Regions from separate parts of the Homo sapiens genome. Here region 1 is linked to region 2. The links come from fine-mapping of genetic effects on gene expression. Tissue or cell type: lung. Region 2 holds a variant in brackets; the other region holds the start of a gene. All regions are shown on one strand. Distances are between the middles of the regions.

The links. PIP is the estimated chance that this variant, and not a neighbour inherited with it, causes the effect.
Region 1: it holds the start of LTK, and the variant in region 2 is fine-mapped to the expression of LTK in lung (TOPMed, PIP above 0.99). The same link has a PIP of 0.9 or more in left ventricle, subcutaneous fat and thyroid.

Annotation. Positions count from the first base shown.
Region 1 is chr15:41,510,064-41,518,165 of GRCh38, reverse strand. It overlaps LTK (leukocyte receptor tyrosine kinase), which reads left to right and starts at 4,339. Exons shown (of 20, transcript NM_002344.6): 1 at 4,339-4,499; 2 at 5,046-5,189; 3 at 5,288-5,459; 4 at 5,901-6,051; 5 at 6,203-6,349; 6 at 6,588-6,744; 7 at 6,820-7,002. The coding sequence starts at 4,457. It overlaps RPAP1 (RNA polymerase II associated protein 1), which reads left to right. Exons shown (of 25, transcript NM_015540.4): 23 at 1-160; 24 at 309-368; 25 at 475-990. The coding sequence ends at 624. RefSeq lists a silencer at 4,974-5,053 and an enhancer at 4,760-5,507.
Region 2 is chr15:41,551,443-41,559,544 of GRCh38, reverse strand. It overlaps TYRO3 (TYRO3 protein tyrosine kinase), which reads right to left and starts at 333. Exons shown (of 19, transcript NM_006293.4): 1 at 164-333. The coding sequence starts at 287. It also overlaps the pseudogene ELOCP2. RefSeq lists silencers at 225-394, 405-544, 483-649, 595-684, 6,914-7,015 and an enhancer at 413-914. The variant A/C (reference allele first, on the strand shown) is at 4,567.

The DNA of each region.
Region 1 (8,102 bases), 41 kb after region 2:
GTGTTACACAGTGCCTCCTGAAGACAACCTGGCCCTCCTTCAGCTCTACTTCCGGACCCTGGTTACTGGTGCGCTCCGCCCACGTTGGTGCCCCGTGCTCTATGCTGTGGCTGTGGCTCATGTCAATAGCTTCATCTTCTCTCAGGACCCACAGAGCTCAGTAAGTTACATCTCCATCTTCAGAGGAAGGAAGGGAGCTAGCAATTGAGCTGCCTCTGGGCCAGCTGGGGAAGAGGTAAGTGTCAAGCAAGGCCAGTGGTGGGTACCAGCCCTCGGCTCAGTGCCACCTCTCCCTGTTCTGCTTCTAGGATGAGGTCAAAGCTGCCCGCAGGAGTATGCTGCAGAAAACATGGCTGCTGGCAGATGAGGTAGGGTCAGGGCCATTAGGAGGGTGGGATATTAGAGGATCTTGGGGGACAGAGACCACAACAGGATCTCATTACCCACTTCATAAGTTTTCTTTCCTTTCTGCAGGGTCTCCGGCAGCACCTCCTGCACTATAAGCTTCCCAATTCCACGCTCCCAGAGGGCTTTGAGCTCTATTCTCAGTTGCCCCCTCTGCGTCAGCACTACCTCCAGAGACTGACTTCAACAGTGCTCCAAAATGGGGTATCAGAGACCTAGGATAGTTGATATAGATGGAAAGATGGGTACGTTGTCCTGTATCCAGCCTTTCAACAGATGTCTGGCCAGACGAAGAACATTGTGTCCTAATGGTAGGCAGGAGACCAAGGAGCAGAAGGCTTGCCTTCCTGGGAGCAGGTTGTTTGAGCTGTTTTAGAGCAGTGAGCCCTACCATTACATCCTGATATCTGGGGCTTCTGAAGGTCTGTACTGGGAGTGAAGAGTGGCTTAGCTATTTACCCGCTCTTTGGGGACAGGGCAAACTAAATGCATCCCTTCTTACCTAACTCCCAACCCCTGCCCTGGGCTGAGGCATATGAATGCTATAGTTGTGCATTAAAATAAATGTTTTTTATCTCCTGGAAATTTGATCTGGACTGATTTCAGCCATGTTAGTTCAGGGTTAGTATCTGGGGGTGGGTTATCCCAGGTGAGGAGCAGGACTGCTGTGAGAGAGATGGGGAAGAATCATAAGTGGGAGGTAAAAACTTTGTCCACATCTGGAGACAACAAGAATGTGGGGCCTGCCAGGCACAGTGGTACACACCTGTAGTCCCAACTACTTGGGAGGCTGAGGCAGGATGATCACTTGATTCCAGGAATTCAATTCCAGCCTAGCCAACATAGTGAGACCCCATGTCTGTCTGTCTGTCGGTCGGTCGGTCTGTCTATCTATCTATCTATCTATCTATCTATCTATCTATCTATCTATTTCTGAGACAGGGTCTTGCTCTGTTGCCCAGGCTGGAGTGCAGTGGCGTGATCATAGCTCACTGCAGCCTCGACCTCCTGGGCTCAAGCCATTCTCCCACCTCAGCCTCCTGAGTGGCTGGGACCACAGGCAAGTGCCACCACGCCTGGCTAATTTTTTGTATTTGTAGAGACGGAGTTTCACCATGTTGCCCAGGTTGGTCTTGAATTCCTGAGCTCAAGCAATCCACCCACCTCAGACTCCCAAAGTGCTAAGATTACAGGCATGAGCCGCTACACTTGGCCTATTTTGGTAGTTTCTACATTGTTCTTTGGTCTGAATTCTAAACTTTAGGCTTTCTTAGACTGTCTTTTGCTGTGTGGATTACTTATTGTGTTTGCAAGTAACCAGAGTCAGAGCAGTGTGCCAAGGCCTAGCCCTGTCAGTAGGTAGAGAGAACCCAGTCTTCATAAATGGAGCTGCTGAACACAGAATTATCCAATAGGTTTTTTTGGGTTTTTTTTTTTTTTTTTTTGACACGAAGTCTTGCTCTGTTGCCCAGGCTGGAGTGCAGTGGGGCAATCTCAGCTCACCACAACCTCCCCCTCCCTAGTTCAAGCCATTCTCCTGCCTCAGCCTCCCAAGTAGCTGGGATTACAGGCGCGTGCCACCACGCCTGGCTAATTTTTGTATTTTTAGTAGAGATGGGGTTTTGCCATGTTGGCCAGGCTGGTCTTGAACTCGAACTCCTGACCTCATGATCCGCCCGCCTCAGCCTTCAAAAGTGCTGGTATTACAGGCATGAGCCACTGGGCCCAGCCTTTTTTTCTTTTTTTTTTTTGAGACAGAGTCTTACTCTGTAGCCCAAGCCAGAGTGTAGTGGCATGATCTTGGCTCACTGCAACCTCCGTTTCTGAGGCTCAAGTGATTCTCATGCCTCAGCCTCCCGAGTAGCAGGGGCTACAGGCATGCACCACCACACCGGGCTAGTTTTTTGTATTTTTATTAGAAGCGGTGTTTTGCCATGTTGCCCAGGGTGGTCTCAGACTCCTAAGCTCAGGCAATCCGCCCACCTCAGCCTCCTAAAGTGCTGGGATTATAAGTGTGAGCCACAGCATGTGGCCCCAATAGGTTTTATTAAGCAACTACTGTATCAGCAAATACCAATGATTCTCAAACTTTGTGACAAAAATCATCTGGAGGATATTTTAAAACAGATCACTGGGTCCTACCACCAGAAGCTGCTGATTCAGTACATCTGGGGTGAAACCCAAGAATCTGCATTTCTAACAAGTTCCCAGGTAATACTGATGCTGATGTTCAGAACAAACCACACAACCACAATTTGAAGAGCAGTGGCTTAAAGAGACTTTGCAAGGTAAATTCTGTGATCTCATAGTGTGATATCTAGTGTTAAGTAGGGCATAGAGACCAGGGTTTTTTTGTTTTTTGTTTTTTTTGAGATGGAGTCTCACTCTGTCACCCAGGCTGGAGTGTAGTGGTGCAATCTCGGCTCACTGCAACCTCTGCCTTCCAGGTTCAAGCAATTCTCTGCCTCAGCCTCCCAAGTAGCTGGGATTACAGGCACCTGCCACCACGCACGGCTAATTTTTGTATTTTTAGTAGAGACGGGGTTTCACCATCTTAGCCAGGCTGGTCTTGAACTCCTGACCTTGTGATCCACCCCACCCCCACCGTCCCCTTGGCCTCCCAAAGTGCTGGGATTACAGGTGTAAGCCACCACGCCTGGCTGAGACCAGACTTTTTACAAAATCACTGTTCTGTTTACACCTTGAATTATACTCAGACTTTACCAAGTAGCTAACTACTATAACTTCTCTTTTGAAGTATTTTGTATTAAACATAGGTCTCAGACTTTCAAGTTAGGATTTTTTTTTTTTTTTTTTTTTTGAGATGGGGCTTTGCTCTTGTTGCCCAGGCTGGAGTGCAATGGTGCGATCTCGTCTCTGCAACCTCTGCCTCCCAGGTTCAAGCCATTCTCCTGCCTCAGCCTCCAGAGTAGCTGGGATTACAGGCGTGCGCTACCACGTGTGTCTGATTTTGTATTTTTAGTAGAGACGGGATTTTGCCATGATGGTCTAGCTAGTCTCGAACTCCTGACCTCAGGTGATCTGCCCGCCTCAGCCTCCCAAAGTGCTAGGATTACAGGCATGAACCACCGCACCCGGCAAATGATCATTTAAGCAAATGATCGAAGACTCAAGACACAAAACTACCTGAAGGGAGTGGCTCCCACATTTGTAGGGTACCTTACAGAGCAATTTCCCTTCATATGATTTTGCAGGTGGTGGGGAAACTCTCAGGGCAGTTGTGGCCTGTGCTACATCACCCATTGACCAGAGGTGCCAGTACTAGTGCTCAAGATCAATCGATCGATCGGTCTACCTACCTATCATCTATTGACCTTCAGTGCTACTAAAAACACTCGGATCTTCTAACGTCTGGTCCAGTCTTTCACCCCATCACAGTGAGAGGCTGTGCACAGGGGTAACACAGGCAACGGAATTATATGAGGCAAACACAGAGATCCAGGTTTCTGGGAGTAGCAATGAGGTTCAGCCTTGCAGTCACAAAGGCACCACTAAAAGGCACAAGTAATGGCAGGTAATGAGGCCTTACTTGGAGCAGTTTAGAGTACTTCCCACGTGTGGTGACGCATGCCACACACTCACCACCACCACCACTGCCACAAATGAAGTGCACACTCCACTGCTCCTGTCCTCAGGAACCTGGAAGCCCCCACCTGGTGTCCGAGGTGTGGCTCCCACTTTAAGCGTGGGGCACCTCCTCTCCGGCCTCAAACCTACCGGAGCTCCCAGCAGGCTGCGGCACATCTGACGGCTGGAAACTAGAACCCCTGGGTGGGGACTCCTTAAGGCTCCTCCCGGAAGCGTAGGGACCTCGCTGCCCACACGCCCCTCCCTTTCCTCCTCTGGCGTCCTGGGGTCTGAGGTGGGCGTGGCCAGACCAGCTTTAGGTCCGGGGAGTGTCTCGCCAGCGGCAGCACACCCCTGTAAGTGGTGGCCAGGGCTGCCGTGGCAAAATGAGCTGTCAACTTTAGGTTGACAGGGGTGTGGCCGCGACCGCAAGGGCTTTTGTTGCCGGGTGGACCCAACAGGGATGGGCTGCTGGGGACAGCTGCTGGTGTGGTTCGGAGCCGCGGGTAAGTGCTATCTGGCGGTCAGGGGACCGTCCAGCCTGAGGCACTTTCCTAGGCTTGGGGGTGGCCGGTCAACAGGCCAGGTGTCAGTGGTTCCTCCAGAGGCCTCGAACTCTCACAGCCAAATTTCTCCGGTCCGTGCTTCTGGAGTGCGGGCCGAGAAGCGCCAAGTGCGTGCGAATCCCAGAGTCTGGATCACGCAGCTTGGGAAGGAGGAACATTCTTTGGGGTCTCAGCACCGCCTTGGGGCGGGGCCACCAATCTAAGTTGAGGAAAGCATTGGGGAGGCTGCAGGACCAAATTCATTGCGGCCCCTAAGTTATTCACTGGGAAAGGCGCTCGAGGAGAGAAACTGGCAGACCTATCAGCGCGCACCCGCGGGGCTTCTGCGACCGGAGTCGGGTAGTGGCTTCCAGGCTGAGAGCGCGGCTGGGCCGGGTGACGGGTGTGGCCGCGACCGCAAGGGCAGCTGTTGCGGGGTTCTCTCTTTCTTTCATATCCTATTTCCACCCGCCTTAACGTCCTGCGCCTTCTCCCAACACCTTTCAGGCGCCATTCTCTGCTCTAGCCCGGGGTCCCAGGAGACTTTTCTGCGGTCCTCGCCCCTGCCGCTGGCAAGTCCCAGCCCCCGGGACCCGAAAGTCAGCGCCCCGCCTAGTATCTTGGAGCCAGCCTCCCCGCTGAATTCTCCGGGTGAGCTTTAGACGCCTCCTTCCTCTTTCGCTCACCATACCAGACCCCTCTGGCCCAGCCAGGGGCTCGACGACCCTTGCCTCGCTCCTTGCTCTCAGGCACCGAGGGGTCTTGGCTGTTTTCTACCTGCGGGGCCAGCGGCCGGCATGGGCCCACACAGACACAATGTGACGGGGCGTACGCGGGGACCAGCGTGGTGGTGACCGTGGGGGCCGCCGGGCAGCTGAGAGGCGTGCAGCTGTGGCGCGTGCCGGGCCCTGGCCAGTATCTGTAAGTGCACGGCGGAGGTAGGGTGGACAGTGACCTGCTAGTTGGAGGTTTCACCCTCAGGGTAACGAAGTCCACGTGCGCACCGACTTGCGTCTTGGACTATTCCGCGGGGAGGTCCACCTTGAGTGCCCTTCAAGGTGGCAGTAGTCGCCACCGAGTTAGCCCTTACCCGGAACCTCTTACACCGAGCGGAAGGCCCCCAACCAGGGCGGCGCCAAGGGGTGCTTGAGCCTCCCCACATTTCCACGAACCCTCCTGAAATAAGTGTAATATCTGATTTTTCGGTGTGCAAACCTACCCTTCCCATCCCGTCAGAGTCGATTGCAGCCTCCAAGTCCCTCAGATAAAAAATAATTCTGGAGCCTCCTCTGTCGCCAACTTCTGCCCGGAGCGGCCGGCCTGAGCACCGAAGGCCGGGGACTCACCGTCCGTTCCCCGCAGGATCTCAGCCTACGGAGCCGCGGGCGGCAAAGGCGCCAAGAACCACCTGTCGCGGGCGCATGGCGTCTTCGTCTCAGCAATCTTCTCCCTCGGTCTCGGGGAGTCGCTGTACATCCTGGTGGGGCAGCAGGGAGAGGACGCCTGTCCCGGAGTGAGCGCAGCCAGTGGGGATGGGGCGGCGCCGGCGCCGGGGGCGAGGGCTGCCTGGGGGCCGGGGGAGCGTGCTTTCCTCGGTGCCGGGTCACCAGCACAGCGAGGGGAGGCTCCCGGGCCCCGCCGATTCCCTCCCCCGCTGCCCGCAGGGTAGCCCGGAGAGCCAGCTCGTCTGCCTCGGGGAGTCTCGAGCCGTTGAAGAGCACGCGGCGATGGATGGGAGCGAAGGGGTCCCGGGGTCGCGGCGCTGGGCGGGAGGTGGCGGGGGTGGCGGGGGCGCCACCTACGTTTTCCGGGTACGTGCTCCCTTCGGCGCTCAGCGTTGGGGTCCCAATCCTCTCCCCAGGGGCGCTCACGCACCGGCTCTCCGTCCGTCCCTTGGGGTCCCCCTATCCCTGCGCTGGGCTGGGCTGGCCTGGGCTGGGCTGGGGGCCCCTGCCCTTATCCAGGCCCCCTGGGCGGGAGCCCTCTCCCAGTGGCAGTGCCCCTGGACAGCTGGAGGGCGCTTCCTGGAACACGCCGCTGGCCCCACAGGTGCGCGCTGGCGAGCTGGAACCGTTGCTGGTGGCGGCCGGAGGCGGCGGTCGGGCCTACCTGAGGCCGCGGGACCGAGGCCGGACTCAGGCCTCCCCCGAGAAACTGGAGAACCGCTCGGAGGCGCCCGGGAGCGGCGGGAGAGGCGGGGCGGCAGGTGAGGGCGCGGGCCGCGGGGAGAGGCGGGCGTGCTCCCCGTGTGGCTGCCAACCTTCCTGCTGTCGCTCTGCAGGTGGTGGGGGCGGCTGGACGTCGCGGGCTCCCTCTCCGCAGGCCGGCCGCTCACTGCAGGAGGGGGCGGAGGGCGGCCAGGGCTGCTCCGAGGCTTGGGCGACCCTTGGCTGGGCCGCGGCCGGCGGCTTCGGGGGCGGCGGCGGGGCCTGCACTGCGGGCGGAGGCGGCGGCGGCTACAGGGGTAGGTGCACCGTTGGAGAGGGCAGCTGAGCAGGCCCGAGGGTGAGGTGATGTTAGAACCTAAGTACAGGCCGGAGCCCTCGGGAGGATAGGTGTGGGAGAGGCATTAAGCCCTGCTCAGCAGCTCCAAACAAAAAGCAGGAGCTCTTAGAAAAGGAGGTCAAATACACTGCAAATCAGCATGCAGACAGGACTCCCTAGATTTCCGTTTAATCCAGGATCTTTCCCATCACAGCAGGTCCCTGCCTTGTTCTGCAGCAGTCTTCAGAACTTAGAGCTGGCCGAGTGAGCAAGCTGAGCAAAGGGGCAGAAAGGCAGGATTGGGTTAAGTCAGTGGTTCTCAAAGTGTGGTCCAGGAACAGGTAATATCCCCACAACCTAAGTTGTTCGAAATGCACATTATCAGCTGGGCCTGGTGGCTCACGCCTGTAATTCTAGCACTCTGGGAGGCCAAGGCAGGTGGATCACCTGAGGTCACCAGTTCGAGACCAGTCTGGCCAACCTGTGAAACCCTGTCTGTACTAAAAATACAAAAATTAGCCGGGCGTGGTGGCGGGAGCCTGTAATCCCAGCTACTCTGGAGGCTGAGGCAGGAGAATTGCTTGAACCTGGGAGGCGGAGGTTGCAGTGAGCCGAGATCACTCCATTGCACTTCAGCCTGGGCGACAAGAGGGAAATTCTGTCTCAAAGATTAAAAAAAAAACAATGGAAATTATCCTGGGAGTTGGGGGAAGGTTGGGGAGATGCTGGTCAAAACAATGCAAAATGGCAGTTAAATAGGAGGAATACCTTCCAGAATCTACTGTACTACATGGTGACTGTAGTTAATGACGATGTATTCTTGAAAATCGCTAAGAGAGGCGGGGCGCGGTGGCTCACGCCTGTAATCTCAACACTTTGGGCGGCGGAGGCGGGTGGATCTTGAGGTCAGGAGTTTGAGGCCAGCCTGGCCAATATGGTGAAACCCCCATCTGTACTAAAAATACAAAAATTAGCCGGGCGTGGTGGCATATGCCTGTAGTCCCAGCTACTCGGGAAGCTGAGACAGGAAAATCGCTTGAACCCGGGAGGCGGAGGTTGCAGTGAGCCAAGATCGTGCCA
Region 2 (8,102 bases):
CGGCGAGCACTCCGCAGCGTGCCCTGTCCCGGCTCCGAGCCTCGGCCTTCGGCTCCGGACCCCCACCCCGACTCCAGCCCGCCAGGCCCGCCCCGGGCTCCGACCCCCGGCCGCGCCCCTCCGCAGCCCCCCGCTTCCCGCCGCCTCCCGTGCCAGCCCCTACCTGCGGCGGCGGACTCCGGGAGCAGCAGAGAAGCCAGAGCCGCCAGCAGCAGCCCGAGCCGCGGTGGCGGCGGCAGCGGCAGCGGCGGGAGCCCCGGCCGCCCCATGCTCCGCCTCAGCGCCATCGGCGGCGACGCCGCACCATGCCGGGCCCGGCCCGCGAGCGAGGAGGGAGGAGGGCGGGGAGGAGGCGGCGGGAAGGGAGCGGGAGGGAGGAGGGCTGCGGGAGGGGCTGGGGCCGCCCGTGGGGCGGTGCTGAGGCGACCGCCTCCGAGACCCGCGCCCGCCTCCGGCCGCGGTCGCCGCCGTCAGCAGCGCGGGGTCCCCGGGGCCGCTCCCGCGCCACCGCGCTCCTTCCACTGCCGTCGCCGCCGTCGCCGCCGCTGATTCATGTTCTTCTCGGAGCCGCCGCCTCCTCCCGGCCCGCCCGCAGCCCGAGCTCGCACCGCCCCCCCGCGGAGCCCCGGCGACTGGCTCGGAGCGCGAATCCCAGCCAGCGCCGCAAACCCCCGCGGCCCCGCCGGCGCCCCGCCGGCACGCCGGCCCCAGCCGCCCCCTGGCCAAACCTGAGGATCCGGCTTGGCCTCCAGGATGGGCTCCCCGGCCACGCCCCTCCTTTCCCTAAACCCGCTCCGGCATCTTTTCTAACCCAGCCCTCCAGAGCCTTCCCTCAAAACCCCGCTGTCAGCCCCCACCACACCCCAACTCTTGTTCGGACTCTGATCCCAGAATCCAGCATCCCCCTCTCAGGACTTAGAGCACCTCAACCCCTAGACACTCCCATCCATCTGGCTCCCCGAAACTGCCGTGACCCGGGGCTCCCCCAACAGGATCGGCTAGCATCCCTTCGTGCCTCCCTTTCATTGAGCCATTCACCCAAAATCCCCATATTCATGTCCTATTGCCATGCCTTTATCTCCAAGTCCCTCCCACCTGAAAAATGCCCATTTTCTCCAGCCCCAATTGCCGTATGTTTTCCAACTTGGGTCCTGAGTTTCCCAAGATCTTGGTAATCCCCAGGTTTTACCTAATATATATCCCCACCACTACACTACACAGGCCAAAGCCTAATTGCCCGTATCTTTTTGGGCTGTCATTTTTCCTGGTTGCTTCCCCTGCTTCTACCCCTTTTCCCAGGACCTGGTGTGAAAGTTGGCTGTGTCGTCACACTGTCCAGTCAAACATTAGCTATTATTAGTAGACCACCTTGCACACAGTAGGCTTTCCATAAATAAATAGGCAGATGCCTGTTAAATGAATGAATAATTGCTTCAGAGCCTGCCCCACAACCAGTAATCACGAGGGTGGCCTTGCCCACAGACATCCTGTTAGGCACATGCAGAGCTGGTTCCAAACCAAGCCTACCAAGTGTGCTCCTCCCCTTGCCCTTCCCTCCAGGGGGAAGCCCACCCCACACCCCTTCCAGAGGTCCTGGGTAGAGAGGAGGGACCAGCCACTCAGCTCCGGTTGCCGCAGGCTCACTGGATCTTTTCAGGGATTCTCCTGAGCAGCAGGGGCCTGCCTCTTCTTCCACTTGGCCCCAGCAGTGCTTGTTTATTAATTACCCTAATGATAACAACAGCAGTGCTGGCAGCAGCCTGAGACCCAGCTGGGGGCGCCCCCAGGCGGCAGCAGGAGGAGAGACTCATGAGGCACTGTCAAGACATGGATGGCAGGGGCCAGATATCTCTGTCTCTGTTTCTTTCTTTTTTTTTTTTTAATTGGCATATTTGTTTATTTCTCAGTTTGTGAAAATGTTCTTAATTTGTTGATGTAGCAAACAAATTTCAACTTTGATTGCTATGAAAAAAACAAGATAATCTGCTTTGCAATGAACTTTATATAGTTAAACTGCATACAGGCAACATGCTATATATGAAAAAGTTACTAACTGATCTACAGGTATTACATACTGAAAAGAGTTAACAGTTTATTATAATTTATTTTATTTAACAATCTAGGAAGTTCGCAGCCATCAGCAGTTCTAGTACAATTTCAGGTGCAATTGGGAATTCAGGAATCTCGATGGAGCTGTTAGTGTAGCGAACCTTGTAGGTAAAATACATGCATACTTTCGATAGCACATGTGAAGGTATCTCTCTAAAATTGACCTCATTGGTTTCGTTCTCAGCAAACTGACCTCACAGCATAAACAAAAATTAACTTAAGACCAAAGACCTAAATTTAAAAGCCAAACCCATAAAACGCCTGGGCCACTCAACATGGCTTTTATCGTGCCTGATGTTAATGCATGTTCTCTTTTTACAATAAATTCATGGCCATCAGATGATATCAATTTGACATACGTGGCATCAGGGCCTTCACAGCCACCATAGGTTTTCTCCTCTCCATCCATTTTGTTCTTATGAAATTCTACTTTGCTTCCCCAGGAACTTTAGTAGTTTCCTGGTGAGGCGAGGACACAGAGTGTGTGGCTCACTTCCGTCTCCTCTGTCTCTGTTTCACTGAGCTCTCTGGCAATTATGTTCTTCTTCCTTCTTCCTTCTTCTTCCTTCTTTCTTCTTCTTCTTCCTCTCCCTCTCTTCCCCTTCCCCTTCCACTTCCCCTTCCCCTCCTCCTCCTCCTATTCTTCTCTGCTTCTTCCTCTTCCTCTCTTTCTTCTTCTTCTTCTTCTTTTTTTTTTTTAGATGAAGTTTCACGCTTGTCGTCCAGGCTGGAGTGCAATGGTGCGATCTTGGCTGACTGCAACCTCCACCTCATGGGTTCAAGCGATTCTCCTGCCACAGCCTCATGAGTAGCTGGGATTACAGGTGCCCACCACCACGTTCGGCTCATTTTTGTATTATTAGTACAGACAGGGTTTCACCATGTTGGCCAGGCTGGTCTCAAACTCCTGACCTTAGGTAATCCGCCCACCTCGGCATCCCAAAATACTGGGATTACAGGTGTGAGCCACTGTGCCTGGCCTCTCTGCCAATTTTCTTGAGCACTGTGGGTCAGCTTCAGGACCCTTTCCCAAAGGAAAAGTCTCGTTACTTTCCAGAATCCACAGTTTCTGAGTTTGGGCTGAGTCAGGGCAGGCAGACAATAGTCTGGGGCCGAAGGCAGAATTGCCTGGGCTGCTCTTGGGCACTTGTCACTTTTCCAAGCCCTCTCTCCCGCCTTTTCTCTGAGGGGGACTTCAAGTTTCCAGTGAAGGGGAGCCTCCTCCTCTTGATTCCAGCTGACATTAGTAAGATTCATTCTAGAGGATGTTGGACCCAGAGCCCAACCCAGCCTTTTACTTCCTTATCTCTCTTCATTCCCTCCGCACCATTTCCTGAGCTGATAGGGAATCCCACCCTAAAGGCCATCCTTTTCTACTGGTCAAAATGGGCTTCTCGGACATGTGATGGATGCCACTTACAGCCTTGACAAACTTCCCACCTCAGCCACCAGCCTGAGATACATCACTGTCACAGAGGCAGCACACTTTCTGTGTGGGACAGGGGGCCCTGAGTTCCTGCTTCCCCTACCCCTAATTCTAAATCTCTCTCAATTCATAGTATTTCTTTTTTTTTTTTTTTTTTTGAGACGGAGTCCCGCTTTGTCACCCAGGCTGGAGTGCAATGGCGTGATCTCGGCTCACTGCAACCTTCGCCTCCCAAAGTGCTGGGATTACAGGCATGAGCCACCTTGCCCAGCCGTAGTATTTCTACTTACAGGGGCAGAGAGGAGGCCGGGAGCAGTGACTCACACCTGTAATCCCAGCACTTTGGGAGGCCTAGGCAGGCGGATCATGAGGTCAGGAGTTCGATACCAGCCTGGCCAACATGGTGAAACCTCATCTCTACTAAAAATACAAAAATTAGCTGGATGTGGTGGCGGCTGCCTGTAATCCCAGCTACTTACTGAGGAGGCTGAGGCAGGAGAACCACTTGAACCTGGGAGACGGAGGTTGCAGTGAGCCGAGATTGCGCCATTGCACTCCAGCCTGGGCGACAGAGCATGACTCCATCTCAAAAAAAAAAGAAAGAAAGAAAAAAAAAGGGCAGAGAGGAGTGGGGGGTCCTGGTCTTCTGACTTTTCAGCTCCTACAGAGGTTTGACCTCCTGAGCCCTTCTAACCCATTCTCCTTGCTTATCTCCCCCACCTTTCTCTCTCTGGGCACAGTACAGGAATGTGCTTCTAAGGGTATGTGAGCAGGTGTGATTTTGTGGAAGAGACATGTAGGTGGATGAGAGGGTGTGCATTGTGATGTATGAGGGAGGGTGTGCATTTGTGCAAATTCTAAATGTGACTGATGCTTTGTGGGCGGATGGGAAGAAAGTGTGTGCGTGTGGGTGTGGAGGTGTGTGTGTGTCTGTGTGTGACTGGAGGAGGTTGGCTGCCTGTGCAAATGCATGCCTGCAAAAGCTCTTCTTCTTCCATAAATGCATTGTTTGGAAGGAAACTAATAAAATC[A/C]ACAGGAAATGTTTTTGACCTAATGCGGGAGTGGCTGTCCCAGGAGTTCCTGTCCTTAGAACAGAACCAGAAGCAGCTATACTCTATTCCAGAGGAGTAAGAAGGGGCCGCAAGGGTGGAGGAAGACTGAGTGAGAGGAAGGGCCAGCGGCAGCCCCTGATTATGGATGGGACTAGGTTGGGCACAGCATCTCACTAATCTAGTAAAATAACTCTCTGCCCACTCTCAGCCTTTTATGACCCAGAACTGTTCAAGGAGGCCAAGGATCCAGAGAAGATGAAGACAAACCTGGAGATAAAAACCATTGTCCACAGAAGCAGGGCACTCTGCTACCAACTTCCGGCACTCTGAAGAAGCAGCTGTTTCAGCTTTTTCAGAGTTAAGGCCTTCTGCCCCACCCCTAGAGTGGGGGAAACAAGAGGAAACCATGGTGAGCTGCAGGATCATGACAGTCTCACTGGTCATATAACCAAAGACCTGTTCTTTCCCAACTACTGTCTCAAGAGATAAGAGTTGCCCAGGCGTGATGGCTCCCACCTATAATCACAGCACTTTGGGAGGCTGAGGCGGGAAGATCACCTGAGGTCAGGAGTTCAAGACCGGCCTGGCCAACACGGTGAAACCCTGTCTCTACCAAAAATACAAAAATTAGCCAGATGTGGTGGCGCATGCCTGTAGTCCCAGCTACTTGGGACACTGAAGTGGGAGGATCACTTGAGCCCGGGAGGTGGAGGCTGCAGTGAGCTGAGATGGTGCCACTGCACTCCAGCCTGGGTTACAGAGCGAGATCTTGTCTCAAAAAAAAAAAAAAAAAAAAAAAAAAAAAAGAGGTGAGAGTGGGCAAGTTCCACTCAAGGGATGGGGGGATGGGGCAGGCCACAGACTATGTTCCTCACCTTAGAGAAACCTCTGGGACTGGTAGAAACATTACCTATATGTGTAATTCCACATGTGCTGGGGACTGTTGCTGTCCCTGTCAAACACCCACTGCCTGAAATTCCTAAGCCAGAAACAATGCAACTTCTTGCCCCATCAAAGATGACACAGAAATGTAAATTCCTAAGAAGACCACACTTTGACTTTCAGTCACAGGAAATATTTCAAATGATCAGATTTCCCTCCAAAAGCAGATTTAGGAAGCAGTAGAGCAATAAGGTTGCGGTTTCTGAAAGGGCAGATGGGTCCAAACATGGAAGAAAAACTTTCATCTTCAAAATTTCACCTAAAGATGGCTGTGGAAGAGTTTTGTGTGTGTATGGACACGTGTGTATGTGTGTGTGTATGTGTGTGTGCCTGTGTGTATGCGTGTGTGCGTCTGTATGTATATGTGTGTGTATGCATGTGCGTGTATGTATGTATGCTTGTGTGTGTGCCTGTATGTGCATGTGTGTTAATGCCTTGTATCTGGCTGGCTGTCTTTCTCTATTTGACCCTCTTTAACTGCAGCCTGGTCAGTGAGGGTTTTCTGGCTCTATTTTCTTATTTTATATGTGTATGTATGTATGTACATATTTATTTATTGAGACAGAGTCTCGCTCTGTTGTCCAGGCTGGAGTGCAGTGGCACGATCTCAGCTCACTGCAACCTCTGCCTCCCAGGCTCAAGCGATTCTCCTGACTCAGCCTCCTGAGTAGCTAGGATTACAGGCTCATGCCACCATGCCCAGCTAATTTTTGTATTTTTAGCAGAGACAGGGTTTCATCACGTTGGCCAGGCTGGTCTCGAACTCCTGACCTTGTGATCTGCCCACCTCGGCCTCCCAAAGTGTTGGGATTACAGGCATGAGCCACTGCACCCAGTCATATTATTTTGTATTATGGAATATTTCTTTTTCTTTTTTTTTTTTTTTTTTTAAGACTGAGTCTTGCTCTGTCACCCAGGCTGGAGTGCAGTGGTGCTATCTCAGCTCATTGCAACCTCGGCCTCCCGGTTCAAGCGATTCTTCTGCCTCAGCCTCCCGAGTAGCTGGGACTACAGGCACATGCCACCATGCCCAGCTAATTTTTGTATTTTTAGTAAAGATGGGGTTTCACCATATTGGCCAGGCTGGTCTTGAGCTCCTGACTTGTGATCCACTTGCCTCGGCCTCCCAAAGTACTGGGATTAGAGTCGTGAGTCACTGTGCCCAGCGGAATATTTCAAACATACATGCAAGTAGAGAGAACAGTATAATGAGTGAATCCCCAGTGTACCTGGCATCCTGCTTCAATGACTATCTTAGTCAATTGTATTTCATTGTCCTAGTTTGTTGTTTTGCTGGGTTTTTTTTTTCTTCAACTTTTATTCCTAACCGCTAGACAACCAGAGATTGCTAAAGTTTGTTTTTTTTTTGTTTGTTTTTTTTTTTTTTGAGACAGAGTCTTGCTTTGTCACCCAGGCTGGAGTGCAGTGGCGCTATCTCGGCTCACTGCAAGCTCCACCTCCTGGGTTCACACCATTCTCCTGCCTCAGCCTCCTGAGTAGCTGGGACTACAGGTGCCCGCCACCACGCCCGTCTAATTTTTTATATTTTTAGTAGAGACGGGGTTTCACCGTGTTAGCGAGGATGGTCTCGATCTCCTGACCTCGTGATCTGCCTGCCTCAGCCTCCCAAAGTGCTGGGATTACAGGCATGAGCCACCACTCCCAGCCGGATTGCTGAAGTTTCTAAAAGCAAATCTTAGCCATATAATTTCAGCTGTAAATATTATAATATATATCTGTAACAGGTAGACTTAAAAAAAAAAAAACTGACCTGGCCTGGCGCGGTGGCTCACACCTGTAATCCCAGCACTTTTGGAGGCTGAGGCAGGTGGATCACGAGGTCAGGAGATCGAGATCGTCCTGGCTAACACGGTGAAACCCCGTCTCTACTAAAAACACAAAAAATTAGCCGGGCGTGGTGGTGGGCACCTGTAGTCCCAGCTACTTGGGAGGCTGAGGCAGGAGAATGGCGTGAACCCGGGAGGCGGAGCTGGCACTGAGCCGAGATTGCACCACTGCACTCCAGCCTGGGCAACAGAGCGAGACCCCATCTCAAAAAAAAAAAAAACTGACCCATATATACAGATGATTACATAGAGAAAGTTATAAATATGTGTGTATACTGTAGTATATACATATATTCACTTACTCTGACAGTTGAGAAGGTCCAAAAAGCAAGACACCCCAGTAGCAATGAGCATACTTACCACGCAGATCTTAGTTTAATATTATTATTATTATTATTATTATTATTATTATTAGAGATGAGGGTCTCCCTTTGTTGACCAAGCTGATCTCAAACTCCTGGCCTCTGGCTGTCCTCCCATCTAGGCCTCCCAAAGTGTTGGGATTGCAAGTGTGAGCCACTGTGCCTGGCCCAGATCTCGGTTTCTAATACCATTCTCCAATAACAGTTATTCTCTAATAACTTCTTCAAGAGTCCTTGAAGAAATGACTGATTCTAGGATTGGGGCAGGAAATATACAAGAGGAGCTATTTCCTTACTTTCTTGTAATGCCAGAACGTAAGGAAATGCACACACGCACCCCGACAGGGTATAGTAAAAGGTCATT